Linked DNA regions of Homo sapiens: all the other regions are linked to region 5. Evidence: fine-mapped QTL for protein levels in blood plasma. A gene starts in region 5. Each other region holds a variant in brackets. All regions are shown on one strand. Distances are from middle to middle.

What was found. PIP is the chance, under the fine-mapping model, that this variant and not a neighbour inherited with it causes the effect. Protein levels are from antibody-based Olink assays in UK Biobank. Linkage for the fine-mapping came from a reference panel and not from the study's own genotypes, which makes the PIPs less certain.
Region 1: its variant is fine-mapped to the plasma level of the TACSTD2 protein (UK Biobank, PIP above 0.99).
Region 2: its variant is fine-mapped to the plasma level of the TACSTD2 protein (UK Biobank, PIP above 0.99).
Region 3: its variant is fine-mapped to the plasma level of the TACSTD2 protein (UK Biobank, PIP above 0.99).
Region 4: its variant is fine-mapped to the plasma level of the TACSTD2 protein (UK Biobank, PIP 0.97).

The regions. Positions count from the first base shown.
Region 1 is chr1:58,597,494-58,603,977 of GRCh38, forward strand. No RefSeq gene overlaps it. Among named protein-coding and RNA genes, the nearest start is that of TACSTD2, 23 kb to the left of the region's middle. The variant A/G (reference allele first, on the strand shown) is at 4,726.
Region 2 is chr1:58,604,548-58,611,031 of GRCh38, forward strand. No RefSeq gene overlaps it. Among named protein-coding and RNA genes, the nearest start is that of TACSTD2, 31 kb to the left of the region's middle. The variant GT/G (reference allele first, on the strand shown) is at 2,035.
Region 3 is chr1:58,614,233-58,620,613 of GRCh38, forward strand. No RefSeq gene overlaps it. Among named protein-coding and RNA genes, the nearest start is that of TACSTD2, 40 kb to the left of the region's middle. The variant A/G (reference allele first, on the strand shown) is at 4,235.
Region 4 is chr1:58,657,589-58,664,072 of GRCh38, forward strand. MYSM1 (Myb like, SWIRM and MPN domains 1) reads right to left here. Exons shown (of 20, transcript NM_001085487.3): 18 at 3,818-3,923; 19 at 3,582-3,639; 20 at 1-2,567. The coding sequence ends at 2,409. Among named protein-coding and RNA genes, the nearest start is that of MYSM1, 39 kb to the right of the region's middle. The variant G/A (reference allele first, on the strand shown) is at 3,154.
Region 5 is chr1:58,572,989-58,579,187 of GRCh38, forward strand. TACSTD2 (tumor associated calcium signal transducer 2) reads right to left here and starts at 4,264. Exons shown (of 1, transcript NM_002353.3): 1 at 2,445-4,264. The coding sequence starts at 4,168. The coding sequence ends at 3,197. RefSeq lists enhancers at 742-941, 1,092-1,181, 3,032-3,727, 3,728-4,422.

The sequences.
Region 1 (6,484 bases), 25 kb after region 5:
ATCCACTCCCTGCAAAAAACAGATCACAGAGATTGCAACCCTCCCCATGTTGAAAGAACTTTTCTCCAACTGATGTCATTATCGCCTTATTTCAAGCTGTTCCCACAGAATTCACCCTGATCTTCTCCTTTGTGCCTTCATTTATTTATACATTCAACACATGCTTTCATTTCACATGAAGAGATTGTCACATTCCAGGCACTGGGCAAGCTATTGAGAATACTGGGGTGTACAAGATAGATACACTTCCTGCCATGATGGAGTTTAGCAGGGAGGGCTGACCAGTTCTTAGAGGGTGGTGAGTATAATCACAGGGCAATATGGTGGGTATTCTCAGCAGGTACTGGGGATGAGGTGGGGCATCTAGACAGGCTGTGAGGCAGGGAACATCTTCTTAAGCAAGTGGAGTGTAACCCAAGACCTAAGGATGAGTAGTACTGGGCCAGGGGAAGAGGTAGAACAGAGTGTTCCAGGCTATGCAGATGTCGTCCACTGGCACTCAATATCTACTCCAACCTTCTTCTACCGTGTTAGTCTGGAAAGCTAAAAGCCACATTTTCTGGGTTTCTTTGTAGTACGTGTTCTGAATGTGAATTAGCTCCATCAGTCAGTGCATTCCTGCGGGATTTGGAAGATGGGGGTGCTGCAGTGGCCTCACCTCCCTGCTTCTGTGGCTTCTGCTGGTTGGTAAGCTCCTCATGGACGGAAGTCTGGCCGCCACAAGGCACTTCTTGATTTTGGTGGCTTCCTGGGTATTTCAGTTTCTAGGTTGTGGCTGTTTGCTGGTTTTGGTGGGTTTTTGATCCTGGCAGAGAGCTGCTGCAGGGGCAGCTTCCCAATTTGGCTGCCAGCTCCCTGATGGCAGAAGAGACAAAAGCACCCGAGGTGGCCAGATCTGCCTGCAGCTCTTGGGGTTGTCTTAGAGTCTCATTTTCCCGGCTTGCCATTGCTTCTGGAACCATGTAATATCCTGCAATAAATAAATCCCTTACTACTTAATCTAACTAGAATCGCTTCTCATTCCTATAACTGATCCCTAAACAACTTACAGACCATAGGAACCACATATGTGAATGTCCACTAGGAAGAAAGCTGGTAGCATTCCAAGGATGCCCCCATGCGTCTGGGACAGAGCCATTTAAGGGAAGAAGGACTGGAGGGACAAGAAAGTGCTAAATCATGGAGTGTCTTATTAAGCAGGCTAAAAATCTCTATTGAAAGGGCAACTGAAGGTTTTCAAGCTGTTTGACCCCAGAACCAGATTTGTACTTTTCAAACACACTGCCCACTAAGTGGAGAAGAGATGGAAGGCAGAGACTGAACACAAGAACACCAGTTGGAATCTATTGTGTTAGTCCTGGATTCAGAATATGCCTCATGTATCAATACTCAATTCCATGTTGAAAACAGGTAGTTAAGAGATTCTCAAGTTTATTTGTGTAAAAAATTAGATCTTTCTTACTTCATCTTCTATCTTATTCCAAATAGAGTGTGACCACCATTCTTTTCTTTCTTTTTTTTAAGATGGAGTTTCGCTCTTGTTGCCCAGGCTGGAGTGCAATGGCGCAATCTTGGCTCACTGCAACCTCTGCCTCCTAGGTTTGAGTGATTCTCCTGCCTCAGCCTCCCAAGTAGCTGGGATTACAGGTGCCTGCCACCATACCTGGCTAATTCTTTTTTCTTTTTCTGTATTTTTAGGAGAGACAAGGTTTCGCCATGTTGGCCAGGCTGGTCTTGAACTCCTGACCTCAGATGATCTACCTGCCTTGGCCTCCCAAAGTGCTGGGATTACAGGCGTAGGCCACGTGCCCAGCCGAGAGTGACCACCATTCTAACCATCAGTGTGCAATATTTCTTGGCAACCTTGTTGTGTCCTTCAACCCAAGGTCACAGCCACCATAAGGAGGCCCTCTCCATGGCTTTTGTTCTCTCTTTTCCTTCCTTCCCTCTCTCTCTCACTATGTATCCTCTGTTACAGTAACTATTCCTCCCCTGTTCCTTTTTCCCTAAAATGGCAATGTCTCGTGAGTTGTAATTAGCTCTGGGATCCTGTGCTATCTCTTTTTGCCTTGTGGTTTCCCTATATCCCACCCAAATCTTTCTAAGTAGTCCTTTTACTAAGCCCTTCTCAAATTACCTAATTTGAATGTGCCATCTGTTTCTTGCTGGGACCTTGATGGATACACTGGGTCATTTGTCATGTAGAATTCTCCTACATTTTGGGTTTGGCTAATTGTCTCTTTGTCATATCATTCAATACATTTCTTTATCCTCTAGATTTCCTGTCAACTGGTAGGTAGACCTAGAGACTTGAAGAGATCCAGATTCAAGGTGTTTTTGGCAGGTGGGGTGGGAACAACAATATTTCATAGGCGGCTTCTTTATACCTCTATAGCATCTCATTAGAACCCACATAAAATCTGATTGTCTAATTTTTTTTTTTTTCTGGCAGAAAGCTTGTTGTCAGCTTTCTTTTTTAATTTTTTTTTTTTTATTTTATTTTTATTTCAATAGTTTTTGGGGAACAGGTGGTTTTTTGTTACATGGATAAGTGCTTTAGTGGTAATTTCTGAGATTTTGGTGCACCTATCATCCAAGCAGTGTACACTGTACCCAATGTGTAGTCTTATCCCTCATGCTCCTCCTCCCGAGTCCCCAAAGTCCCCATCATTCCTATGCCTTTGTGTCCTCATAGCTTAGCTCCCACTTATAAGTGAGAACATATGATATTTGGTTTTCCATTCCTGTTTTACTTCACTTAGAATAATGGTCTCCAATTCCATCCAGGTTGCTGCAAATGCCATTATTTCATTCCTTTTTATGGCTGCATAATATTCCACAGTGTATATATATACCACATTTTCTTTGTCCACCCATTGGTTGATGGGCATTTAGGCTGGTTCCATGTATTTACAATTGCAAATTGTGCTGCTACAAACGTGTGTGCAAGTGTCTTTTTCATATAATGACTTCTTTTCCTCTGAGTAGATACCCAGTAGTGAGATTACTGGATCCAATGGTAGTTCTACTTTTAGTTCTTTAAGGAATCTCCACACGGTTTTCCATAGCAGTAATACTAGTTTACATTCCCACCAGCATTGTAAAAGTGTTCCCTTTTCACCACATTCATGCCAACATCTATTATTTTTTGATTTTTTAATTATGGCCATTCTTGCAGGAGTAAGGTGATATCTCATTGTGGTTTTAATTTTCATTTCCCTGATAATTAAAGATGTTGATCATTTTTTCCTGTTTGTTGGCCATTTGTATATTTTCTTTTGAGAATTGTCTATTCATGTCATTTGTCCACTTTTTGATGGGGTTATTTGTTTTTGTTTTTCTTTCTTGCTGATTTGTTTGAGTTCCCTGTAGATTCTGGATATTAGTCCTTTGTTGGATGTATAGTTTGCAAATATTTTCCCCCATTCAGTGGGTTGTCTGTTTGCTGATTATTTCTTTTGCTGTGCAGAAGCTTTTTAGTTTAATTAGATCCTATCTATTTATTTTTGTTTTTGTTTCATTTGCTTTTGCATTCTTGGTCATGATCTCTTTGCCAAGCCAACATCCGGAAGAGTTTTACCAATGCCATCTTCATCATTTTTATGGTTTCAGGTCTTAGATTTAAGTCTTCAATCCATCTTGAGCTGATTTTTGTATAAGGTGAGAAATGAGGATCCAGTTTTATTATTCTGCATGTGGCTTGCCAATTATCCCAGCACCATTTGTTGAATAGGGTGCCCTTTCCCCATTTTATGTTTCTGTTTGCTTTGTCAAAGATCAGTTGGCTGTAAGCATTTGGCTTTATTTCTGCATTCTGTATTCTGTTCCAATGGTCTATGTACCTATTTTTATACCAGTACCATACTGTTTTGGTAACCACAGCCTTGTAGTATAGCTTGAAGTCCAGCAATGTGATGCCTCCAGATTTTTTCCTTTTGCTCAGTCTTGCTTTGGCTATGTCGGGTCTTTCTTTTGGTTCCATATGAAATTTCAGATTGTTTTTCCTGGCTCTGTGAAGAATGATGATGGTACTTTGATGGGAATTGTATTGAATCTGTAGATTGCTTTTGTCAGTATGGTCATTTTCACAATATTGATTCTTCCCATCCATGAGCATGGGACGTGTTTCCATTTACTTGTGTCATTGATGATTTCTTTCAGCAGCGTTTTGTAGATTTCCTTGTAGAGATCTTTCACCTACTTGGTTAGGTATATTCCTAAGTGTTTTATTTTATTTTTTGCAGCTGTTGTAAAAGGGAATTAGTTCTTTATTTGTTCCTGAGCTTGGTTGTTGTTGGTGTATAGCAGTGCTACTGATTTGTGTACATTGATTTTGTATCCTGAAACTTTACTAAATTCATATATCAGATCTAGGAGCATTTTGGACGAGTTTTTAGGGTTTTCCAGGTATACATCATATCATCGGTGAACAGCGACAGTTTGACTTCCTCTTTACCAATCTGGATGCCCTTTATTTCTTTCTCTTGTCTGATTGCTCTGGCTAGGACTTTCAGTACTATGCTGAATAGAAGTGGTAAAAGTGGGCAATCTTGTCTTGTTCCAGTTTTCAGTTTCAGTTTTCCATTTGTCCCCATTCAGTATAATGTTGGCTGTGGGTTTTTCACAGATGGCTTTTATTATTTTGAGATAAGTCCCTTCTATGCCAGTTTTGCTGAGGGCTTTAATCATAAAGGGATGCTAGCTTTTGTCAAATGCTTTTTCAGC[A/G]TCTATTGAAATGATCATATGGTATTTGTTTTTAGTTCTGTTTATGTGATATATCACATTTATTGACTTGCATGTGTTAAACTATCCCTGCATCCCTGGTATGAAACCCACTTGATCATGGTGTATTTTTTTTTTTTTTTGACATGCTGCTAGATTCAGTTAGTTAGTACTTTGTTAAGGATTTTTGCATCTATGTTTATCAGGGATATTGGTCTGTAGTTTTCTTTTTTTGTTATGTCCTTTCCTGATTTTGGAATTATGGTGATACTGGCTTCATCAAATGATTTAGGGAGGATTTCCTCTTTATCTTTTGGAATAGTAAGATTGGTATCAATTCTTTGAATGTCTGATGGAATTCAGCTGTGAATCCATCTGATCCTAGACTTTTTTTGTTGGCAATTTTTAAATTACTGTTTCAACCTTGCTACTTGTTATTGGTCTGTTCAGAGTTTCTGTTTCTCCTGATTTAATCTGGGAGCATTGTATATTTCCAGGAATTTATCCATCTCCTCTACATTTTCTAGTTTGTGTATGTAAAGGTGTTCATAGTAGCCTGGAATGACCTAGTACTTCTGTGGTATTAGTTGTAATATCTCCTGTTTCCTTTCTAATTGAGCTTACTTGGATCTTCTCTCTTCTTTTCTTGGTTAATCTCACTAGGTCTATCAATTTTGTTTATTTTTTTAAAGAACCAGCTTTTTGTTTCATTTATCCTTTGTATTTCTGTTTGCTTGTTTGCTTCAATTTCATTTAGTTTTGCTCTGATCTTTATTTTTTTCTTCTGCTGGGCTTGGGTTTGGTTTGGTCTTGTTTCTCTAATTCCTTGAGGTATGACCTTAGATTGTCGATTTGTGCTCTTTCAGACTTTTTGATGTAGGCATTTAATGCTATGGACTTTCCTCTTAGCACTGCTTTTGCTATATCCCAGAGGTTTTGATAAGTTGTGTCACTATTATCGTTCAGCTTAAATAATGGTTATTTTTTATTTATTTTTATTTATTTATTTATTTTTTTGAGACAGTCTTGCTCTGTCGCCCAGGCTGGAGTGCAGTGGCACAATCTTAGCTCACTGCAAGCTCCGCTTCCCAGGTTCACGCCATTCTCCTGCCTCAGCCTCCAGAGTAGCTGGGACTACAGGCGCCCACCTCCACACCCGGCTAATTTTTTGTATTTTTTAGCAGAGACAGAGTTTCACTGTGTTAGCCAGGATGGTCTCGATCTCCTGACCTCATGATCTGCCCACCTCGGCCTCCATATTTGTTTAATTTTTATCTTGATTTTATTGTTTATCCAAAGATCATTCAAGAGCAGATTATTTAATTTCCATGTATTTGTATAGTTTTGAGGATTCCTTTTGGAGTTAATTTCTGGTTTTATTCCACTGTGGTCTGAGAGGATACTTGATATAATTTTGATTTTCTTAAATTTATTAAGACTTGTTTTGTGGCCTATCATATGGTCTATCTGTGAGAATGTTACAGTGCTGAAGAAAAGAATGTATATTCTGCAGTTGTTGGGTAGAATGTTCTATAAATATCTTTTAAGTCCATTTATTCTAGAGTACAGTTTAAACCCATTGTTTCTTTATTGACCTTCTGTCTTGATGACCTATCTAGTGCTGCCAGTGGAGTATTGAATTCCCCCACTATTACTGTGTTGCTGTCTATCTCATTTCTTAGGTCTAGCAGTAATTGTTTTATAAATTTGGGAGCTCCAGTATTAGGTGCATATATATTTATGATTGTGACATTTTCCTCTT
Region 2 (6,484 bases), 32 kb after region 5:
TTATTTTGTTTCAGGAGGCTAAAGATGGGACCCCAGTTGCTTCTGACTTGTAAGGTTTCTGCTGAGAAGTCTGCTATTAATCTGATAGGTTTTCCTTTCTAGATTATCTGATGCTTTTGTCTCACAGCCCTTAAGATTCTTCCCTTCACCTTGACTTTAGATAACCTGATGATTATGTGCCTGGGTGATAATCTTTTTGTGATGAATTTCCCAGGTGTTCTTTGAGCTTCTTGTATTTGAATGTCTAGATCTCTAGCAAGGCCAGGAAAGTTTTCCTTAATTTTTCCTTCAAATAAGTTTTACAAACTTTTAGATTTCTCTTCTTCATCAGGAACAGCAATTATTCTTTGGTTTGGCTGCTTAACATAATCCCAAATTTCTTGAAGGCTTTGTTGATTTTTTTAATTCTTTTTTCTTTGTCTTTGTTTGATTGGGTTAATTTGAAAGCCTTGTCTTTGAACTCTGAAGTTCTTTTTTCTACTTGTTCTAGTCTATTGTTGAAACTTTCCAGTGCATTCTGTATTTCTCTAAGTGTGTCTTTCATTTCCAGAAGTTTGTAATTGTTTTTTTCTTTATGATATCTGTTTCTCTGGAGAATTTTTCATCCACATCCTGTATTTTTAAAAATTTCTTTAAGTTGGTTTTCACCTTTCTCTGGTATCTCCTTGAGTAGCTCAATAATCAATCTTCTGAATTCTGTATCTGGCAATTCAGAGATTTCTTCTTGGTTTGGATCCATTGCTAGGGAGCTGGTGTGACCTTTTGGGGGTGTTATAGAAACCTGTTTTGTCATATAATCAGAATTACTTTTCTGATTCCTTCTCATTTGGGGAGACTATTTCAGTGGAGAGGTCTGAAACTCAAGGTCTGCTGTTCAGATTCTCTTCTCCCATGGGATGATCCCTTGATATGGTGCTCTCTTCCTCCCCCAAGGGATGGAGCTTTCTGAGAGCTGGACTGCAGTGATTGTTATTGCTCTTCTGCGTCTGTTATTGCTCTTCTGGGTCTAGCCACCACATGGATCTAGGGATTGTTTTTGCTCTTCTGGGTCTGGCCACCATGTGGGGCTATGAGGCTCTGAGCTGGTGGTCTGAAAAAAGTCCTGTGATGTGATCTGACTTCAGGTCTACAGCCATGGATACCAGCACCTGTTCAGTGGAGGTGGCAGGGGAGTGAAATAAGACTCTGTGAGAATCCTTGGTTGTAGATATGTTTAGTGCACTTGCTGAAGTGGCATTGTTGTCTGGGGTAAATACACAAGGTTTGTTGCCTCATGCCAAGGAAATCAAGGACATGAACACATGTGGAGTGAGGTTAAGAGCATAGGTTTAATAGGCAAAAAAAAGCGAAAGGAAAACAGCTCTCTCTCCTATGAGACAGAGGGGTGCCTGAGTGGGACTTCAGGCCTGCATCAGTGCACCGGATTTTATAGACAGGCTTGAGGAGGCAGTGTCTGATTTACACAGGGGCCAAAGATTGGTTGGACCAGGTGCGCACATTTATTTACATAGCGCATGGGGAAGCTGGCCCCCACCCTAATCTTATTATGCTAATGGGGTCTTTACTTTATTATGCAAATGGCGCCACGTTGTCTGTTCCTTGCTGTAGACATGGTTGATAAGGAAAGGGGAAGATGGAGCCACCATGTTGGACATGCCTAGCCCTCAGGTAGCCTTTTCCTAATGGCACAGCTGCCAGCATTCACTCATGCAAGCTTCCAGCTTGCTTGTCTATGTCTGCAGCTCCATTTTACAGGCTGCTCTTTGTTAGAAAAGAAGATTATTTTGGATCTGCTTTTCATTAAAAGGAAAACCTTACCAAAGACTCTCTTACCCTCGCTTTCTGCCTAAATAATTTCTTCTTAACTCCTATATCGTCGCTTTCTTGAATTCTGGTTCTATTAGCAGTGAAGTTGTCACATGGACACATTCAAAACCTCTGGTTACCCAAGATGTTGCAGGCAGTGGAATTAGGTGTTGTCTTCTCCTTTCTGGGATCAGGGTTATTCTGTCATGAGTTGCTGTAATAACCTGA[GT/G]TGGTTGGCCTCCAGCCAATAGGTGGCACTTCCAAGAGAACACCAGCTATGATAGTGGTAGGGAGCTCTAAACTTGCCCTAAGATGGCCAGGGTAAGTATTTTGGTTTCTCAGGTAATGGGTGGGGCCATAAAGCTCCAAAGAATGATTATGTTTTGTGTTCAGCTACCAAGGTGAATAGGGAAATACCATCAGGTGGGGACAGGGTTAGACAGGTCTGCACTCAGATTCTCCTTGGGTAGGGCTTGCTACTACCCAAGGCCACTGTGGTGGGTGGGTGGTGGTTCTCAGGCCAATGGGACTACGTTCCAGAGGGGATTATGGCTGCCTCTGCTGTGTCCAGGGAAGTGGTGGATAGCTGGTAGTGAGAGGCTTCATCCAGCTCCCATGCACTTGGAGAGATTGGTCTTCCACTACAGTGCCCTGCTCAGACCTTGCCCCAGGCCATGAGCTACCCAGCTGAGAATCAGCACAGCTTCCAGACCTCATCCCTCCCCATCTGCTCACTCCATTGGTGGTAGGTCCTGTGCTCACTCATACCAGCAGCACCTGATCATCCCCCAGACTCCACTCAAGAAATTTGTGCCCAGTCCACTACCAATTTCAGTTGGGACCTTTCTTCATCCCACAACACCTTCCCAATTCCACTGACTGCCTTTCCCAAGGGCCCCAGTGAGATATAGTCAGGGATGGCTTCCCTGGGCTCAAGCTGGATACTGGGAATATGTGCAAGGTACTTCCCACTGCCACTTCCACTTTTATATTTCATGCAACCCCCTAAATCTGTTTCATCTCTAGGTAAAGTTAAATCCTTCTCATGTGATCTGGATTTTCAGATTCCCCAGTGGGGATATGTGTTTGGAGGTAGGTTTGCCTCCTCTCACACTTTGGGAACTCACAGTTTTTTTTTGCCTGTTTCATGGAATTTGCAGCAGTGTGCAACTTCTTTCAAAAAATCTGTGAATTCCTTTGGTTTTCCCGGTACGTTCCTGTGGTAGTTCTTGGAGCAAAAGATCATGGTGTGAGTCTGCACACACTGTTCTGTCCATCCATGTGGGAGCTGCACATTAGCCCTGTCTCCTATTCATCATCTTCCCCCGTTCTTGTCCTGATTATCCAATTTTGAGTGCTGTTGAGGTTGATCTGTGGGTTCAGGTGTTTCAGCTGTAATGATGGTATTATAAAGTTACTCATCAATTTTCACCTAATGATTTTTTTGCAGTCACTGATGATTGCTGACTACATCCACTATTTCATTAAAGATTTGCAAAATAGTGATTTTCTAATTCTACCCTTCATTCTGCACCTATTAGCTGGGTTTTTCAATAAAGAAGAACTTTCCCTCATCAACCAAAAAGCTTCTTGCAAGGTTTTCTTTTTGGTTTACTGTGGGTTCATTAAGATGTGACAGATACGACTAGATGCAGGGACTTCAGAATGCTTTCCACCGTTGCTCCCTCACATATATACTCTTGTCATCATGTACTTTTATTCTACATATTATTATTGTTGTTTTCATTTCAATGTTTCACTCCAATGTTCATTTATACAATCAGTGAAAAATATTCCCCATAAATTAATATTTCTTTCTTTTCTTTCTTTCTTTCCTCTTCTTTTTTTTTTTTTTTTTGACAGGGTCTCACTCTGCCATCCAGGCTGGAGTGCAGTGGCATACTCATGACTCAATGCAGCCTTGATCTCCTGGGTTCAAGCGATCTTCCCACTTCTCACCTCAACCTCCACAAGTAGCTTGGACCAGAGGTGCATTCTACCATGTTTGGCTAATTTTTTTTTATTTTTTGCAGAAATAGTGTCTCCCTGTATTGCCCATGCCCTGTATTACCTCAAACTCTTGGGCTCAAGTGATACTCCCACCTAGGCCTCCCAAAGTGCTGGGATTGCAGGCATGAGTCACTGTGCCTGGCCAAATTAATCTTTTTCTTTTCTGCATTCTTTTCTGTGTCTCTTCATTCTTTTCTGCATCTCTGACTTCCAATCTGGAATCTGGTTTCCAGCCCTAAATTTCCTGGCTTCAGCACTGGCAAATTCTATTTTCCCAGGGAGGGGAAAAAAAGTACCTGACCAGGCCCAAAGACTTCATTTATTTTCTTCATTATTTTATTTACCTCTATAGGGGCTTTTTCCAAGTCACCCTCAATGGGATTTCCTTTACTCTATCTTCTGTAACAGCCAGAGCACATCAAATACATAGAAGCTGGCATTCTAGGCCATAGTAATTGTTCAGTAGGTACTTTATCTTGTTTACTTTGTTGGATAGCCTTTCTTAACAAACTTTCTCTGATATCTCAGTCTCAGATACAAGTCTCCCTGCCTTTAACCATTGTATCAGTTAGGACTTGCATTAACTGCAAACAAGTAAAAACTCAACCACATTTTACAGTTAGGCATTACACATATGCACACATGTATGTGTACACACACACACACACACAGAGAGAGAGAGAGCGAGAGAGAGAGAACTCTAGAACTTCTAGTCCCATGGCTTAAAAGTGTCAGGACCACTGACTCCACATTTTTCCAGGCACCTTCCTAATGCCTGTGAGTCAGCTAGTATTGCTTCAGCCATGACATCTATATTCCAGACAAAAAGTAGAAGGAAGAAGAAGAAAGGAAATGTCTCTACCTGTATCAGGTATATCAACCAGACTGAGAAATCCCCACTAGTCCGTTGCTTACACCTCATTGGTCACAACTCAGTCAAATGGCTACCTCAATCTGAATGAGAGGCTAGAAAATGTGTATATATGTGTTAGTTGTGCACTTCGCTATCCTAAACAAAACTGCAGTTCTGGCAAGGAAACATTGACTTTGGGTTGACAATCAACAGTTTGCCCTCTCCCTACTCTTCCCTTGGCATAGGATGCCCTTCCCTCCTCCCCACCTACTGAAATCTTATTAGAATATCACCTCTTCCAGGAAGTCTTTTCAGGTTATCTCAGTAGGAATTTTCTTTTAATTCTTCAGTTTAATAAGCAATATCTTGTTTGCCTAGTAACTGCAAGGCGCTACTAAGATACTATAGATGGAGATAAGTAAAATAGCGTTACTGTCCTGATAGAGCTCAGTTTACTTTTAGTATCTAAAAATCAGACTCCAATTATTATTTAATGATTACAGAGTTTCTATTTGAGGTGATGAAAAGGTTTTGGAAGCAGATCATGAGGATGGTAGCACAACAGTGTGAATGTACAACTGACCCTTAAGCAACATGGGTTTGAATTGCATGGGTCTATTTACAGAAAGATTTTTTCCAACCAAATGCAGATTGAAAACACAGTATTTGCAGAATGTGAACCCAAGTGTAAAGAGGGCTAACTTTTCATGTATATAGGTTCCACAGGGCTTGACTACAGGACTTGAGTATACAGGATTTGGATATATGTTGGGGGCAGAGGAGTTCTAGAATTAATCCCACTTGTATACTGAGGGGTGTCTATAATTAACACCACTGAATTGTACACTTCAAAATGATTACAATAGCAAATTCTGTGTTATATATATTTTATCACAGACAGGCAAATCGGACTCCAAATCCAAAAATGCCAGCATGGTGTGAAAATACAGACAGAAAGGAGGTATGGGTGTTGGGGTGCATAGAAAAGTCATTTAAATTACCTAGGCATTGGATCCTGTTCTGATGCTGTCTATTAGTTCATCTTCACACTGCCATAAAGACATATTCAAGACTGGGTAATTTATGAAGAAAAGAGGTTTTATTGACTCACAGTTCTGCATGGCTGGGGAGGCCTCAGGAAACTTACAATCATGGTGGAAGGGAAAGAGGCATGTCCTACATGGAAGCAGATGAGAGAGAGTGAGCAAGAGCAGGGAAAACTGCCCTATAAAACCATCAGATCTCTTGAGAACTCACTCATTATCATGAGAACAGCATGGGGGGAAGTGCCCCCATGATTCAATCACCTCCCACCTTGTCCCTCCCTTGACACATGGGGATTGTGGGGATTACAATTCAAGATGAGATTTGGGTGGGGACACAGAGCCAAACCACATCACACTGCTAGTTCTGTCTACTGAGAAGCAGATGCGGAGATGCAGTTAGGACAAACAGGCATATTTGGGTAAACTTGTGAAAGGAATTTCTTCTACTTTCACAAGAAACTTCTTTTCTTAGAAGCAGGACTGGTCAGAGGAAGCCATTAAACCGTGAAGTAGATCAAGTAGAAAAAGCCTCTCTGCCTAAAGGGGAGCTCTAGAGGAAAGAGCCCATTACAGGAATCCTGCTTTGGGTGGAAGTGCCTAAACCTTGCTCAGTCATTGGCTGGGGCTGCACTGGGAAGAACTGAAGGAGACCAGAAAGAACAAGTGGAAGCTGTCAGCCCACCACCTTCTCACAGCTAGGCAAGGCATCCTTTCTTGCAAGGGAATAAGTACAGCCCACCTCTGTCTGCCACAGCTGCTACTAGCTATG
Region 3 (6,381 bases), 41 kb after region 5:
CCAGCCCCTCACCCTCCAGGATCTCCTTAAAAACCCCAGCCAAGAGCTTCCTGGGGAGGATTTGAGAGTGTCTTTCCATCTCATTGTGGGTGCCCTGTGATCATTAAGCTCTTTACTGCAAACCCTGCTATCTCAGTGCATTGGACTATTACTGTGCAGCAGGCATTCGGACCAGTCCATCCTGTAACAGTCACCTGGATGAGGACACCATCTTGCCTGATTGGTTTCCCATGCCCTTATTTTGCTTCCTCTCTCATATCCTATTTCCTTATTCTTCTAATCCGTCTTCCAAAATGGCCACAAATCATTTTTCCAAAACCCCAATCTGCTCATGTCAATTGAATACTTGTTTCCTTAAAATCTTTCAGTTACTTCCATTGCACTCAGAATAAATCTCAACTTTCTCAGTTTAGAGCTCTTTCTTGGCTAGGCCTTTCATGTTCAGCCTCCAGCTTGCTTTTCTACTGATTTTTCTATGATCTCTAGTGTGAACTTCACAGGAAAATCATATCGGACTATTTGTACGTTTCTCAATGCTTCCAATTATCTCATGCCTTGCCACCTCAATGGCCTCAAGGCATCCTCAGACTCACAATAAAATCCAGACTCCTAATCATGGCTTGCAAGGCTCTGTCTAAACTGGATACCACGTCAACCTCATTCCCTACCTCTCTTTCCCTCCCTCCCTGCTGTAGCCATTGACCTCCTAGATATTCCTTCTCTTTTTTCTTTTCTTTCTTTCTTTCTTTTTTTTTTTTTTTTTTTTTTTTTTTGACAGATTCTGACTTTGTCACCCAGGCTGGAGTGCAGTAGCATGATCTCGGCTAACTGCAACCTCTGCCTCCAGGGTTCAAGCGATTCTCCTGCCTCAGTCTCCCGAGTAGCTGGGACCACAGGTGCGCACTACCACGCCCGGCTACATTTTTTGTATTTTTAGTAGAGATGTGGTTTTGCCATGTTGGCCAGGCTGGTCTTGAACTCCTGACATCAAGTGATTAGCCCACTTGGGCCTCCCAAAGTGCTGGGATTATAGGCATGAGCCACCGTGCTCGGCCTTCTCTTTTCTTTTGACTTAATTTTTTTTAGGGCAGTTTTAGGTTCACAGTAAAATTGGGAGGAAAGTATTGAAATTGCCCATATACTCCCTGCCCTAACACATGCGCAACCTCCCCTATTACCAATATCCCCTGTCAGAGTGGTATATTTGTTACAATTGATGAATCTATATTGACACATCTATCACCCAAAGTCCACAATTTACATTGGGGTTTACTCTTGGTGTTGTATTTTCTATAGGCTTGGACAAATGTAAAATGACATGTATCCACCATTACAGTATCATACAGATTATTGTAAGAATAATCCTAAAAATTCTCTGTGCTCCAACATCCTAGCTGTTTCTTGAACTTGCCAAAAAAATTCCAGACTCAGAGATTTTACATTTGCTGTTCCCTTTATCTTGAATGCTGTTCCTCTAGATGGTCAAATGTGTTAGTCTCTCATTTCAAATGAATTTCCACTTATATCTTGCCTCATCAACACCTCCCCTCTCCACTCTATGCATAACAACTATGGCCCCTTTCGTACCTCCCCCTATTATCTCCTGTATCTCCTTCATCAACTTCATTTCACTTTTCCCTATCTGATGTTATATTACATATTTCTTCTGTTGTTTGCTTACTATCTCTCTCCTCATTCTAGAATACAAAATGCACAAAGGCAGAGATTTTTCTTTTGTTCACTGCTGTATCCCCATTGCTTATATCAATTTCTGTATTTATTTATAGGTTATTTATTTATTTCTGTATTTATAGTAGGTATCTAACAAATACTAGTTAAGTGAATTAATGAATGAATAAACACAGGAATAAATGCCACCACTTCTGACTGTCTTTTTCCACTTGGTTAACTCCTACTCATCCTAAAGACTCAGGGTAGGCACCAACTCCTCCAGCAAGTCTTCCCTGACCGTCCGCCCAGGCTGGGATGAGGGCCCTTTGTTGTTCCTCTGGGCTCTCTCAGCCACCTGGACTGGCACCTCTATTGCAACACTTCTTATCTTGTGCCTCCTAACCCAATCTCTAAGCTTCTCTAGGGCAGAAAAATCTTATGCATCTCCCCCTCTCTCCAGTGCCTGGAAGAAAGTAAGTGCTCTGTAAATGTTCATGAAATGAATGGAAGAATGAATAAGTGAAAGAATTATAGCAGAATTTAAAATGTGCAAACTCTGATGTGCAAAATAACACAATTTTCTTTGTCATTAACTGATCTACTTTGCTCTTGCATCTCCATTCCTCCTGATGGTGAAAAATAATCCTTAAATTTGCCAATTAAAGGCAATTCAGTTTGCTTTGCAACTGAATTCAGTCTGCAACTGAATTCAGTCTGAATTCAGTCATGTTGGCGTTGATTATTGAAAAAATATCAATACCATTTCTCCCCTCATTCAAAAGACTCCTCCTTTTCTTCTTTGCCAAGATTGTATCTGGGTACAAGTGTGTATTTCTGCATCTCCATGGTCAAGAAGGTGGTGGGGAAGAGAGTACAGGTGAAGGTGGAACCCCTGGTCTGAGTTCCCTTAGTTCTCAGTGAATTCCAGAGGGTTGGCGGGTTTAACATGGTCCCTGGGCACTCTGAGTGGATGTCTACTGAGAGATTCATAATACCCGTGGTCTTCTGGGTGTCATCCATCTATCCATAGCCCCTGATGCTGAAGACTTCACCCTACTTTACCCTCTAGTTGTGAGGTTCCTGCTGTCTGTGGCTTCTAGCTCCTGTTCCCAGGACTGGAGCTTGCAGGAATGTTCTGTTTCTCTGCCCAAACTAGTGTGCAGCCTCTACGCTGTTGCCTCTAAGCACCTCCTTACTATGTCTGTACTGTGTTGGACATGATGCCATGCTGAACCTGAGAGTTGGGATTTTTTTCAGAGCTAGATCCTAAGAAATAAGAAACAGATGATTCTGCCCTGTTATCCCCACATCTCACTCATAAAACCTCCTGCTTCAGAGAGCTCAGCCCTCAGGTTGGGCTTTCTTCTCCCTCTGTCTCCACTGCCCTAAACCCCAGTACAAAAGGAGCTTTCTGTTACCCATTCCTGTCTGATAGATGCCCCTTTATTTCTTACCTTCCTTCTTTTGTGCTCTGTAGATTTCTATGTTCCAGGTGGTTTCCTCTGTTATCACACTTGGGCAATAAGCACCATATGGTGTAGAGATGCTAGAGATTCAAGAAAAAGGAAACTACCCTGGAGATAGTCTATTCAGATGAGAGGCAGGTGGGTGGATGGATGGATGGTTATTAGATGACTTGTCCCATATCATCAGGTCCTTATGTAAAGAGCCCAGGACTCCAAGCCAGATCTTCTGATCACTCTTTCCATTGTATCTTTTGGATTGAAAATCCAGTTCTCCAACTTCCCAACTTTCCCAAATGCCATTCATCCTGGAAAGCTTTCTCAGAGGGTAATTATGTGCTTGAGGACTCTGAGCTGTTCAGATGTGAGGACATGCGTCCCAAGATGCGCACAGCAGTAATTTGCCTTGTGGGTTTCCCAGTGCCCGGTGCTCTGTAGAGCCAGCTAATTAAAGGCCTTATCACAATTATGGAAAATCACAAGGCAGCAGTTTAATTAGATTTTCATGTGGAACTCTGTTTCATTCCCCTCATTTTTGCCTAAGATGTCTGAGAGTAGAATTGAGTCTAATGGCCATTAAAGTAGTGTTTGTTTTTATATTTAATTTCTTCTTCTCCAAAATCTTGATGCCTGAACCCTAAATGCCCAAGCAACGCTTAGATGTCTATTCAGCATTTCAAACTTAGTGTCCAAAATGAACTCCTGATTTCAACCCTATCTCTGTTCTTTCCCTATCTTCCCCATCTGGCAACACATTCTACTAAATCTTGGAATTAACTCTCCTCTTTTTCTAATTCCTCACATTCATTCCGTCAGACTTCATCACTTGTCTCTTCGCAATATTTTCAGAACCTGAGCTTCTCATCACCTCCAAAGCTACTACCTTTTTTCAAGCCACCATCATCTTTGCCTGCACTATTTCAAAAGCTTCTGACTGGTTCCTCTGCTGCCACTTTTGTCCACAGAATTAAATGGTCTGTGTGTGCCTGTGAGTGCACACATATAGCTTAGTCACTCTAACAGAGACCCAAATAAACAGTGGCTTAAACAAGACAGGAATTTGTTTCTCACTCATGTAGCAACCCGTGTGGAAGCAGTCC[A/G]GGACTTGTGTGTCAGGCACCCTGTTTTCATGGTTCCGCCCTCCTTAGGGTATTTCCCCTGCTCATAGGATCCAGTATTACTCACCCCCATGTCTGCTTTCCATCCAGTAGGGAGGAAGCCCTGGAGAAGAGGAAGGCATGCCCACTTCCTTTAACTGCCTGGCCCACAAATTGTGCCCACCACTTCCACTTGTCTGCCAATGGTCAGAATTTTGGCTAACAGCCACATCTAGCTACCTGGGAGGCTGGAAAATGCAGGCTATTTCTGGGCATCTAGGAGTCCAGCTAAGAATCACAGCTCTGTTGCTACAGAAAATGTCTTGAATGGATATTGAGGTTTCTGTCCTACTCATTCCCCCTGGTCTGTTTTCCCTACAGTGGCCAAAGAGAATAGCATAGAGATCAGGACATGTCACTCAGTAAATGACAGGATGGCACTCAACAATTATTTTTCTAGTGCCCCATTTAATAAATTCCAAGTCACAAGAATCAGGCCTCAATTCTAGTCTGCACTAGCTGGAAGAGACCCCAGAGAATATTTAGCGCATGGTTTTCAAAATGATTTTAGGCTATATATGTATATATATTTAGAGAAACTTTAATAAGGAAGCCTACTATGTTAAATGGGGAACAAGCTGGCTGCTATTTTTGAAATCAAGGGCAAGATGGATTCATTTGCTTTTTCTTTTCTGCTTTAACTCAAAGCTGGTTTAGATTCAAAGTCCCACTTCCAGAGGTGTTCGGACCACAGATTGAAACAATGAACTCCAGCAGAACATCTTCATTTTCCCTATGGGGAAACTGATGCCCAGGGAACAACAGGAGTTGTAGCTTACCGAGCTCAGTGCCTCACATGCTTGAGCTAACTTTCCCAAAGCGGGGATCCCGGCCATGGAAGAAAGCCTGCCTCATGACTGGCCACTCTCCCAGAAGCACCAGGCTATGTGCCCACCAGAGGGAATCCCAGCAGATTGATTCCTGCAATAACTTCATGCTCTCTGAAAAAAAAAAGTACCATACTCATGTTTCAGTACCTCCAAACTGGCAGTGGGGTTTCCTTTGTGGGGGAGGGGTAAGGAAGGAAACACTGGGAGGAGCCCTTCACTTCAGCTAAACCAGCTCTGAAAACTTGGCCAAGTCTCTCATTTACTTTGGTAACCATATCTGCTTGGAAGTGTTGCTGTAAAGATCAGAAAGAGATGAGGTCTACAGGCAACAATAGAGAGATGAAAGGGATTGTTTTTTCTGTGTGGGCCGTACAATATCCCACACTCTCATACCCTTGAGGGGCTTACCAGCTGAAGTGGAGACAGGAGAAGAAGGGAAGCCAAGAATCTCAGGTGCCTGGCACAGAATCAAAGGAGCAGTGGGAATTGTGCATGCTGCAGGAGGGACCAGGGCTAAAGTGGTGAGGACAGGGACACACTCCAGTGCTGGGTGGAAGAGAACCTGAGGGATAACATAGAGGTGGTGAAGGACAGGGCTCCCCACCTGGGGATCTTGTTAAAATGAAGATTCTGGCCAAGAGGACTGGGGAGAAGCCTGAGATTATTCATTTTTAACAAACTTTCTGGGGACGCTGAAGCTGCTGCTCCTGGTAACACCTTTAGTAACAACATAGAAAAAGAGACCCCACTGGTGCAGGGATCAGGCCAGCCTGAATTCCAGCCTCTCTTCTACCACCCAACAGTTGTGGACCTCAGGCAGCCTCGGGCCTTTTACCTTATAAGTGGGCACACTATTAGCAACTTTACACCAGAACCGCCAGCTTTCAGAATCCACTTCTCTCCTGTGCGGACAGAGGTGCAGACACATCTAGTGTAAAATGGGCCATCTGCAGTGACTCTCTCACTCTGTTTCTAGTCCTCCGCCAGCCCTCAATCCTACACACTTCCTCCCACCGCCTGTTTGTTTTGTTTTGTTTGATTTCATTATCTTCACTTCTCTGAAAAACAGAGGTAATACTGGCCTTTCAGGTTTGCTGGGAGGATTAGGTGAGCTCTTGTGTTCTCAGAAGCAATTAGACCCGCCCCCAACCGCTCCCATTGCCCTGCCCCTCCCCAGCCTAAGGTTTGTCCTTCACTTTCTATCACACGACCCCAGTGTCATCCCTAAGGCAGGGAACCTCTGCATCCTTTCCAGTCTTA
Region 4 (6,484 bases), 85 kb after region 5:
GTAACCAAGTTTAACATACTAAAATTATACTGTCAAAAAAATGGGGAAGGATTTATATACTAATTGTGTTTTTTTAAATAGTAGCACTGAGATATTTGTACTTCACACTTCTCTGTATTTTAAAATATACTTTACAAGACAAATGTACTCTATAGTCAGAAAATACTAAGTATTATTTTGAAAACTGTGCTCTCAAGGCCCCAAACTCTTGACAAGTATCATCCTTGAGATCCTCGCAATATGGCTTAGATTAGCAAATATGGTTAAACATTGGCACACAGGGCAAGGAGACTCAGATTTGAGAGCAGAACTTTTAACAATTTCCATTACTTTCCATCACCCAAATTCATCAGTATTATAGGGAAATGTCAATCAAGAAAGCTAGTATAAAACACTTTTTAGTATTTGTTCCCCAATATATCATGAGGAAACAGGTCAAAAGGAAGATGAGTACAAAGGAATCAATCACTGCCTTTCACAGAATCACGCAACTTCGGAGCTTGGAAGGGAATACTAAGCCATAAAATTCAGGCCCTTGATTTACTGGTGAGGAGCATGGGGTCCAGGTTATGTGTTTTGATTAAGGTCACACAGCAAAGTTGGTAACAGAGTTAGGGTAAGAGCTCAGGTTTCCTGACTTTTGGTATAGTTCCTCTTACACTCTCAGCCCTCAAACTAATTGTTTTATAAGCTATACTTCACTGTTTATCCTAAGTGCACACAGAGAAATGGAAAAATACTACCCTTTTTTTTTTAAATGTATGTTAATTTGGAAACTGTATTAACTCAAAATATAAACTTCACAAGAGTAGTCCAACGATTAGAATGAACAATAAAATTTTAGTTCTGGAAGGACATTAAGAAGTTAAGTTAGACTTCAGTTACACAAGAATTAAGGCTCAGGGAAAGTAAACTGTATCTCCCCAAATCACAAAGTTGAGACAAGAACCAGGTCACCTAAAGCTGACTCACTGCTTCTTCCAATACTCCTTATTCTTCATTGGCTATTGATTACAAACAAAGCAAAATATAGAATCAATCTGATTTAGATATAAGGAAACGTTAGTAAGAATGTTTGGTGAATAGCTATAAATCAATTCTCTGACTACTAAGAAATAAACTAAAATCTACTGAATTTCAATAAATGAGGCAGCATTGACTGCTTATTTTATTTTAAAATTGGCTTAAATGCAGATCATAATTCTGAGTTTTGGTGTCATTTGAAGATGACGTAAAGCTTAACAAATGTAAAACAAAATTCTAATGTTTAAAATTCTCTAGATCAAGGGTTGGAGAATAATAGCCAACAGCCTATGTTTTATGAGGCCTGTGAGTTAACAATGGTTTTTATCATTTTAAAGGGCTGTAAAACACACACACACACACACACACACACACACACACACAAAGAAGAATGTCTCATAGACATCATATGTGGCCTGAAAAGCCAAAATTATTTACAAACTGGCCCTTTACATTAAAAAAGTTCACTGACCTCCATTATAGATTCAGAAAGCATATGAAACTGGGCTGAATATGTAACATGTCCTGAAAGGCTTGTTTTAAAAATTAAATCTCTGATTTATTCCAGCTTTATTATCATTTGCCTCTTTCTCCTAGTAGTAGGCAGTAGAAAAAAAGTTTGAGTTATGATTACCTATGTTCCAGTTAAATGAGGTTTTATCACACCTACTAATGTAAGTGGACTCACAATTGAAGCTAATTATTTTATGTGTGTAAAATTGGTTAAAAATTTTCAGATAGCTGAGAAAATGGCATATCTTATGATACTACTGCTATACAATGAAATGGAAGATAGTATCTATGATTAGAAACTGGTAATTTAGTTCTCTCCTTTGGGTTTTTCCTGTTTTTAAGATTTTCTTGTCATGCCTCTCCTGGTCTCCTGTTAGATTTATTAATCAGTAGTTCTAAACCATATTAATTATCTCAGTGACCACCCATCCATATCTCATTTATAGCCATAAACAAATCTCAGCAGAATATATGGAAAGAATGGAAGTGCTTTTAAATGAAATAGGAGATACCACAATGGAACATAAATGACTAGTTCAGGGAAGAAATGACTTAGAGACATAGTCCAAATCCCAAGCTGAACACAACAGTAAAGCCGACCAGGTTGCTTAGTTTCACAGCCTACAGCATTGCTCAGTAAAGGACTAGAACACCGTGGTGGACCCTGGTTTGCAGAACACTCTGATAATCACTATATGAAAACAAATTTGTATCTCTTCCTTTTCACATGATTTATGTGGCAAAGTTTGGATTTTGTGAAATAGAGAAAAAATACCAAAGCTGTGCCAATGTTAACTACAATCACTTCAAGTTTATAACTTTGAAAGTAAGATCTACTGTGTCAAGATTAAAATGTCTTAACTTTAAAATAATCACATTAACAATTCCTTTGTACAGTTCTCTTCGGTTACTCCATTCTCTTGGTTGCTTTTATAATTGGAAAGGAACAAATTTTCTATTTCAGTCAAGAATTCTTCAGCCATAAAGCAATTGGTCACTTTGCTCAGAGTCTTCCTCATACACTCCAAAAGCTAGTTGAAAAGAAAAGTTTTATATTTAAATACAGAAAAAGTATGAGGGTTTGCATTACTATCACTATTTCGTCCCTTTCCAGACCTCACATTTCCTAATGCTCAAATGAGAAACACTCTCCTTAAAAATGGTTGAAGATTAACTTGTGTTTAATAGTCACAGAGCTGGAATGTAGGAAATTGCTGCTGAGGAACACTCAGCTTAGTACTTTTATGATTTTACATAAGGAGACAAACCTGAGATTGTTTATGTGATGCTTTCTACTTCGGACGTATTTGCGACTTTTCTCCATTTGTAGTTACACTTACAAAGCAAAATAATCCTGAGTATACACACACACAAAAATCTAGGTACATAAAAACATAGGATTCTGCATTTCAAAATGAGGATGCTAGCTGGAGTCTATTTCCTTGGAAATGTGCACATACTTTTTCAACAACACACAAAAAACTGGATATAACAGAAAGGAGTAAAACATATTAAAAAGAAACTTAATGTTTAAATTTTCTATCCCCAATTGCTATTTAAAAAGACAAATGTTGCAGATCTACTAGCCTTCAATCATTACAGAAGCAAAACCTAGAC[G/A]TGAACTGACAGAATTCAAAACTCTTATTTCCTATTAGAAAGTTAAATAAAATGACTATTTAAATTTAATTGTTAGATTTATACCATCATTCTTAAAAATGACCAATTGTTAAGGCTAAAATGGAAACATGGCACTTTCAAATTTAATAAAATAAGAAAAATGTTCTCCATTGTGTATAATAATAATCTGCTAAAATCAGCCAACACTGACAAATTTATTCTAAAATAGAATTTTTTCTATGTGCAAGCTTGGGCAACAAAAAACGTTACTAATTATCTCCTAGAAATTAATTTTCCAAAGGAAAAAGTAATAAAAGAAATATACAGAAAATTATCCACAAAGTATTAGGCATCATGGGAAAACACATTGAGATGAATAGCTTCAGAATCTGTGAACAATGGAACCAATTAAAATGAAGACAGCTTACTTTCTGCAAACAAGTCAGGTCAGAATCCCGGCGAAAGATTTTATCCATGGGGACGCTGCTGTAGGAAGAAATATGAAAACAAACTGGTGAAACGAATACTATAAACTAATCAGTTTCATAATAAACTATCACGGATGCCATACATCACAATTTTATATTTAACTTGGGTTTTCTCTGAAACATAATTTAATGAGCAACACTGCAGATGTGCAACCATCTCAAACCACAGTACATACCTATGGGAGAGCCTGTATTTTTCTATTATCCATCTTGTCTTTTCAAATACTAATCCCCACTGAGGTTCTTCTAACATCTGCTGTACTTCAAATTTGTAAGGTAAGCCTAGAAAAGCATAAAGAAGCACATTGTCATCAACTATTTCTTAACTCTCCAATCTCCTTTTAATTATACTTAAAATTCCCTTCGGTGTTTTTACAGCCATAGCTTTGCAGATCAGCTGAACAGCACTTTAAACATAGTGGGCATTCATTAAATATTTATTGCCCGATTGTACTTGGTCCACTAAGCATATTAATGCCAAGCTATTAATAATAATAATGAGTAAAAGTGCCATTTACATGACAATTCTACGCATGGCACTATGATGGGATGATCACGTAATTTATCACCTAAACCAAGAGACTTTTTGAATGAAAGAAGGTACTATTAATAATTATGCCTGAACCGCAGGTTTAAAGTGGGATTATCCTAGACAAACTAAGACATATTGCCATCCTAGTGATAATTAAAAATATATATATATACAGGTTATTAAGCTTACAACAATGCTGTAAGTTATTGTTTTTTTTTTAACAGGTGAGAAAACTGAAGCTGAGATACATTAAAAATCATATTTAGGCTAGCAAAGTGGCAGGACACAGATGTTAAAACCCAGCAGGTTTGCCTCACTTCTGAGCCCAAACTCATTCCACCTCCCTAGAAGAGCTAATCTAAGACTAGACAAGAGGATAGGATGAACTCTGGGGAGGCAGCAACTGCTTTGAGTCAAAGTTGTTATACTAAACTCTGGAGGAAAGAAAGAAGCCCAAGGGGTGAACATCATATATTCATCTAGAAAGGAAAAAATACCAAACGATGAGTTATCTTAGCAATTTTTCACATATCCTTCAAGACCCCCATGCAAATGCATCTATAGCATTTTTTTAAAAGCTCAGCTGATTCACTAGCAAAGGCTGATACCATCATAGTAACACTTATAATGCATACTATGTGCCACCTAAAACTTAATGTGAAATCACTTAAATGAAGTAGCTGCCATTATTCACCCCCCCCTTTTTTTTTTTTCGATGAGGACACTACGTCATAGAAAGGTTAACCTGCTCATGATCAGATATAAAAGGCATTGGCAGGATTTGAACCCAGGCAGTCAGGCTCGAGAGTTCTGCTTTTAACTTATACATAATACTGCCTCAACTGGGTTTCTACCATGGTAAGGAATAAATAAAATGCCAGCAAATCAGAAGGCATGGAAAAAAAAAAGGGGAAAAATACAATTATTTCCTCACAATGAAATAAAGCATAGCTTAAATGTCAATATGCTCTAAAAAGGCATTTTTTCAGGTGTTTGGAAGGAAAGGGGACAGCAAGCCTGATGATGATGACTGATCTTTTTTATTTAATTGCTCAATTTTCCTCTTCTCCAAAAACTTAAGAAGAGTGACACACTATAGTACACGGGGTATTAAGCAAACTCCTTATGGTGATAACAGTCATTTACTTGACATGCTTTGATTACTTACTAAACATGGATACCATCTATATAATGATAACCACCCACTGAAAACCTATTATTTGCTAAACACTTTACATATATTACTGACACACCTTACAACCATATACCTACTGTAAGCAAGGTAGTAATTTTTTCTCATTTTACAGATGTAGCAAAGGAGAATGAGGGAGTAGACTGCCCAAGGTAAAATAAGCAATAAATGTCAGAGCTGGGATCTGAATCCAGTAGAGTGACTCCTACTCTCAATGAAAGTTGAAGATGAAAATAAAGAGAGGTAAATAATGCATTTTCAATCTATGCTGATGCAAAAACATGAAAACATACACACAAATTATATACAGGTCTATTTGGTATTTTTAAGAATATTTTTTAAGTTAAAAAAGGTACTTTTAAAGTCAATAAGTTTCTTTTATAGAGAATATTTTTATCCACTAAAATATCAGAAGAAAACTGATCACTAAATATATTTCCTGCCTGTCACAAGTAAAGAAAACATTAAACCATTAGAGATATTGTAAAGATATGACCTGAGTTAAAAGTACTGTAGCACAAGGTATCCCATGGCTTCTAGAAAACCTTAATTCTTGCACCAGAGGATTTCTAAGGGCAAAGCAAAAGACCTAGGATTAAGATCTAATACGCAGTGTTAAGCATGGACAAGTCATTTACAAGACAGCTCTGTCCAATGGTAGCTCATGGGAGCATCATGGATAGTTCCCTCTAATGCTTTCAAGTAGTTCTTTCCCATCTGGGCTAGTTTATTCACATACATGTGCTGATCTGTACTTTGCTAAATACTCCAGGGATACTCTTCTACAAATCTCCAGAGTTCACTCTCCATTCTGCTTTCTGTTCTCTTGGGGCTCTGTCTCACAAACTCAGCTGTCTTGGTCTCCTTATCTCCATCACCTTAATTGAGTCGGCCTGGCTCTGGGTGGGTTTCTCCTTCTTGTGCCATATCTGAAAACCCTCTTAAGCAGTAAGCTAGGGTAATGTGGGGCTCTTTTCATTTGTTTCCCATCTCTTAGCAATCGTATTCCTTTGCTGCTAAATGTTGTGTTTAAATACCATTATTTTACATATTTTGTCCAGTTTTTTGGTAGTTTCAGACAAGTTCTTTTTACTTCATTTTGGCCAGAGTAGAATTCCA
Region 5 (6,199 bases):
GGGGAGGTGGGTGGAATCTTGGAGGCAGCTGCTCAATCCCTGAAGATAGCTGGTTCTTAAGACCCGACCCCAGCAGAGGAAAGCTGATTTTCAGAACAGAAGCATGAGGGGGCTCTTCCTTGGAAGAAGTGAGTAAAAAAAGGCATCTTAACCTGCTGGCTACCCAGCAGGAACAGGAGGAAATAAGTATAATGGAGACATGTGGCTAGTTTTTACAGCTAATAGGTAAAACACATCTTTAAAGCACATTAACAGTAAAAATCTTAGCTACACAAGGCAAAAGTCCCAAGCCCCATATTTGGTATATGCAGGGTGTGTGTTCATGAATTTACTCAATGTCTTTCAAATCTCAGTTTGCTGACATGTGACATGGATGTAATCTAAACAATTTAAAGTACATGAAACTTTCACTAAGCACCAGATTGTTTCAGACGCTCATATCAATTACTTCATTTAATATTCATAATAGCGAGAGAGGGATTTATAGTTTCATTTAACTAATGAGGAAACAGGGGAGGTAAGTGACTTCCTGACCCAAAGGAATAAGATTTGACCTCAGGTTTGTCAACATTTGGGTTACTTCCAGTAAGTCAATGGCTCAAAGAAGATTATATGTGTGAAAACGCTTTGCAAATTATAAATGCTATAAAGTGCAAGAAGTCACAGTCCTGAATTAATGCAGAAACCTAAATATCATCCAGAAGCAACATTCTGATGGAGTAAGGGGCTTTTTCAGGGAGTCTGCTTTGTTCAGTTGCCCACTGGATCCTTTATTTTCCAGGCAGACAAGTGAGTTTTTAAAAGTGACTCTTGAAACAATGAGGCTTTCTGGTTCCAGCTGTGCTACAGAAACATTAATCTTGAGAATTCACTTGCTCTTTTCATGTGTGAAATGCGGGGTTAGGTCACAGGTGATCACCAAGGTCACTTCCGTCAAAGCACTTCAGTGACTCAGAAGTGGAAAGCACCCAGTGAGACCTAGAGTGGGGAGTCTCACTCTCATTGTTAGAGAGCCAGTTCTAACTTCAGGTACTTGGGCCACCCTTCCTACTGTAGGAGAGCCTGCTCACATCCACCCTCTCCCCTTGGTAAGTCTTATTTGACCCTGGAAGGAAGTTTGGAGCCTGGAGGAGTTTCTCCCTTGATGAGTGGCAGCAGACTTTGAGATCTCTGGCAATCCCACAGTATCCACTCCACCAGCGCATAGCAGCCACAGCCCTAAGTTGAGAAGCCAGTAGCTGAGAGCTATCTCTCCCCAATTCTTACTGGTGTTTCAGTCTTGGGAGGTCCTCATAGACTGTAGAAACAGGATGGGAGGAGGGGCATGAAATGGATTCCAGGGGAAGAAACTGCAGTCCTGGATCTAGCTTAGCTGTTGCTGAATATGTGATATACCAACCACTCCCTTCCTTTGTACACACCTAGTGTTGTATCAGTTTCTCAGTTACTGTAGTAACTTGTTTACTTGTGGGGTACCCCACAGTCACACACATAAATGAACGTGAATGACTGAAAAGTAAGAGATAAGTGTAAGAGGGACAAGTGGCTAGTTTTTACAGCTAATAGGTAAAACATATCTTTAAAGCACATTAATAGTAAAAATCCCTGGGTGCAGTGGCTCACACCTATGATACCAGCACTTTGGGAGGCCGACGCAGGTGGATCACCTGAGGGCAGGAGTTCAAGACCAGCCTGGCCAACATGGTGAAACTCCATCTCTACTAAAAATGCAAAAATTAGTTGGGCATAGTGGTGGGCACCTGTAATCCCAGTTACTCAGGAGGCTGAGGTAGGAGAATCGCTTGAACCCAGGAGGTGGAGGTTGCAGTGAGCTGAGCTCACTCCACTGCCCTGCAGCCTGGACAACAGAGCAAGACTCCATCTCAAAAAATATATGTAATAAGTAAAAGTCTTAGGAAAACAGCCTGTGCACACCCAGCAAAAGTGTAGGGCCCACTGCAGACTGGCTCTAATTATGTGGGAAAGTCGTTTAATCTTAGAGCCACAACGCTTTGAGATTAAGTGATTTGCTCAAAGGCTAAATGGAAATAGTACCACTTATTTCAAAGTAGGGCTGGGATTCAAAGGAGGTACAGCTCTTGAACTAGAGTTTTCTGTCTCCATTGGTGATAAGCCTTGTTTAGAGATGACCAAAGACTGGCACTCTTTTTCATAAAAGCAGCTAGTTTTAGCTTCCTCCCTCAAGCTCACCCTCCTGCAGTTTGAAGGAAGTTTCCAAATAATCTTATTTAGAAAGAATAGCATTTACACTGGCCAGTTAGGATATCTTAGGACACACCAGAGTAGCAACATGAAACACCCACTTCTGGGGGAAAAAAAAGTGTTATAATTTGAAATAAAAAAAAAATACAAGTCTTGGGAAATTAGAGACCAATGTGATAGAAATCTGGAGGGACTTTTCACAAATGCCGACTTCTGGTTTGTGCCTTTCCCATATTTTATTAAATTCGTGTTTTATTTTAAAAAATTACAGCAACATTATCAAAGACAACATATGTACAAACATTTTACAAAAAAGAACATTACCAATATCAGTGGCAGTAAGGGCAAGCTGAAGAATAAATAGACTGAGTTTCCGGGCAATGTCTGTCCTCAAAGACATCCAAACTGCGTTCAGGCAGCTGAAACAGGCTTCTTTCCCAGTGACAAGCATATGTGGTCAGTAATACAAACGATGGTAAATGAGGCTACTACATAGGCCCAGTTAACAAACTCCTCTTCTCCTCGGGTAGGCCATGATACAAGTGGAACTCATCAAATAATTTAAACCCAAGGCGATAACAACGCTATTTCCCATCTAAACTCATTTAAGCCTTCACAATGTCGCAATGGATTCAGTTACTTGCAAACGATCCCGGGTTGTCATACAGATACTTGTTTTTTACACATAACGCTATGCCATCCCTTCCTTCACTGCCCCAGTCAGGTTTCCTGTTGTTGGACCGAAAGGGGATACATTTTAGAAATGCTTCCTTCAAGACAGAAGTGAGAAAGAAAGGAGACCCTGAGGCCAGGATCTATTAAACCTGGTGTGTGCGCAAAAGGGAGGGGGAAGGCAGGAATTTGAAAGGATAAACGTCTCCTTTGCGCCGAGGAATCAGGAAGCGTGACTCACTTGGGTCTGGGACGATACCGAAATCCGGTACCCCACCCCATCCCCTGCCCCGCCGGGTACCTACAAGCTCGGTTCCTTTCTCAACTCCCCCAGTTCCTTGATCTCCACCTTCTTGTACTTCCCCGACTTTCTCCGGTTGGTGATCACCAGGACGGCCATGCCGGCGACGAGGGCCACCACGACCACCACGATGACGGCGATGAGGCCGGCGGTGAGGCGCTTCATGGAGAACTTCGGGGGAATCTCGTCCAGGTAATAGATGAGCGTGCGCTCCACCTGCAGGGGTTCTCCGCGCACGCGCAAGTCCAGGCCGCCGCGGCCCTGGAATAGAGACTCGCCCTTGATGTCCCTCTCGAAGTAGTAGGCGGCATCGCCGATATCCACGTCACCGGCGGCCTTCTGAGACGTGTTCTGCCGCAGCTCGATCTGGATGGTGGGCTGCTCGTAGTGCACGGCCGCCACGAACTTGGGGTGCAGCCGATAGCGCTCGCGGAAGAGCCGCCTCAGCTCGGCGTCCAGGTCTGAGTGGTTGAAGGCGCCGGCGGTGGGGCGGTGGCGCAGGTCAATGAGGATGTGGTGGGTGCGCACCAGCTCATCGCAGCGTAGGCTCAGGTCGCCCTTGTCCGTGCGGCGCACGCCCACCGAGTTCACGCACCAGCACACCGACGTCTGGTTGCACTGGCGCGCCTTGAAGCGGCCCTCGGGGTCGCAGTCGGGGTCGTAGAGGCCATCGTTGTCCACGAGCGCGTGCTCACTCGGCCGCACCAGCGTGCGGGCGTTCTTGGGGGCGCTCATGCGCGCCTTGAGCAGCAGACACTTGGAGGTCAGCGTGGAGCAGTCGACCGCCATGCCCGAGCCCAGCGCGCGGCACTGGCAGCGGCCGCCGGGGCCGTCGGGGCTGCACACGGTCATCTTGTTGGTGGGACACGTGCAGTTGTCCTGCGCGGCCGTGTGGCCGGTCACCGCCGCCAGCACCAGCAGCAGCAGCGGCAGCCGCAGCGGTGGCGGCGCGAGGCCGGGGCCCCGAGCCATGGTGGGGCGGAGGAACGCGGACCGGACGCGGGCGGATGAGGCGCGGGGACTCGTCGGGGCTCGGGCTCCGGCGTCTGGGATGGTCTGCAGGCGTCTGCCGCCCGGCCGCTCCCTCCGGCTCTTATACTCTACCCGACCTGCCCGGCTGGTTCCACCACCGACCGTCCCCACTGGTATTTGGGTGACACATCCCGCCCCCCTCCCCGTCCCACGGAAGGCCAAGCCGGCCCTGCGCCGCCCGCGATAGGATCAGAACAGGGAAGCTGCTCCCGCCTCCTCCGGACCGAAAGCCGGGAAGGGGAGAACCGATACTCACCTGTAGGCTTCTGGGGACCCGCCCTCGGCGCGGCCTCCTGCTACAGACCTGGCGCGTCTGGGCCGCTCTCCCGGCAGAAAGTCTAAAGAGTTTCATTGCAAAGTGTGGCTCGCGACTGTCGCGCTCTCCTCTATACGCGACTCCCTTTTCGTTCTTTCCCAGCCCCAGCCCTCCCTTAATTTCTCTCACTCCCTCTCTTCTTTGTCCAGTTCTCACAGTAGCACACGTTTATATAGTTTACAGTTCACAAACATTATCTCATCCTAACACCAGTCCTGACAGGTAGGGACTATCAGACCCGTTTTATAGGTGGTACTGATGAGGCTTAAAGACCTGAAGTCACACTGCTATCAACTTCCTCATATTTCTGAGAGGGGTCTTTGGCACCCTGCCTAGGAGTGATGAGACCTTAAATAAAGTGTTTGTGGACACGAAGTGACACAGAATCTGAAGGGAAGTTAGGGAAGCAGTTCTGTTACTCACCATATCAAGGGTAAAACACAGGTATCCTGGTGTCCAGAGGGTTAAAAGTTCTGTTAAACACTAATTTTCTGTACCTCACACAAGCGCACACACACAGGCACACACGCACATAATATTTATTTGTGCACTGGCTATAAAGAGACAAACAGGAACAAATTCTTAAAGAGCCAGCAAGACTGTAAAGAGTTTTTTGTACAATTTGATTCTAACACAGCAAATCGTTGCTTTTCTTTTCCTGTATCCCACGTAAGTAGCTGAACCATGTAAATAATGAAAGAATGGAGCCTGTGAGAAATTGCTTGTCTGCCACTGTGTGGCTAGTTTCATGGCATACAGGGGTTGCAATCTCTTTTTGAGTCATTGAGAAAGTCTAGAGTTTCAAAGCTGTGGTAAAATTAACAATAATTAGCAAGCTATAATTATTCCCAGGTCCTCCATCAAAGCACATTTTATATGTTCAGCATTTAATGTGCACCACCAGTCGTGCAAGGGTGTTGTTTAGCAGATGAAAGCCAGCTGGGCCTCTGTCCCATTAATTTTCACGCAATTCCTGAGGCAGGAAGATTGAAATATATTCTGCCTTGACAGACAGAGGAAGCAGAGACATGTGAGGGACAATTTCTTTTTTCTTTTTTTTTTTTGAGACGGAGTTTTGCCCTTGTTGCCCAGGCTGGAGTGCAATGGCGTGATCTCGGCTCACCACAACCTCCGCCGCCCAGGTTCAAGCAAGTCTCCCGCGTCAGCCTCCCGAGTAGCTGGGATTACAGGCATGAGCCATCAAGCCTGGCTAATTTTTTTTTGTATTTTTAGTAGAGACAGGGTTTCTCCATGTTGGTCAGGCTGGTCTCAAACTCCTGACCTCAGGTGATCCGCCCACCTCAGCCTCCCAAAGTGCTGGGATTACAGGCATGAGCCACCACGCCCGGCGAATTTTTTTTTTTTTTTTTTTTTTTTTTTTTTTTTTTGAGACGGAGTCTCGCTCTGTCACCCAGGCTGGAGTGCAGTGGCATGATCTCAACTCACTGCAAGCTCCACCTCCTGGGTTCATGCCATTCTCCTGCTTCAGCCTCCTGAGTAGCTGGGACTACAAGCGCCTGCCACCACGCCCGGCTAATTTTTTTGGTATTTTTAGTAGAGACGGGGTTTCACCGTGTTAGCCAGGGTGGTCTCGATCTCCTGACCTCGTGATCCGCGTGAGGGACAATTTCTTATCCACAAACATGAGGAATTGT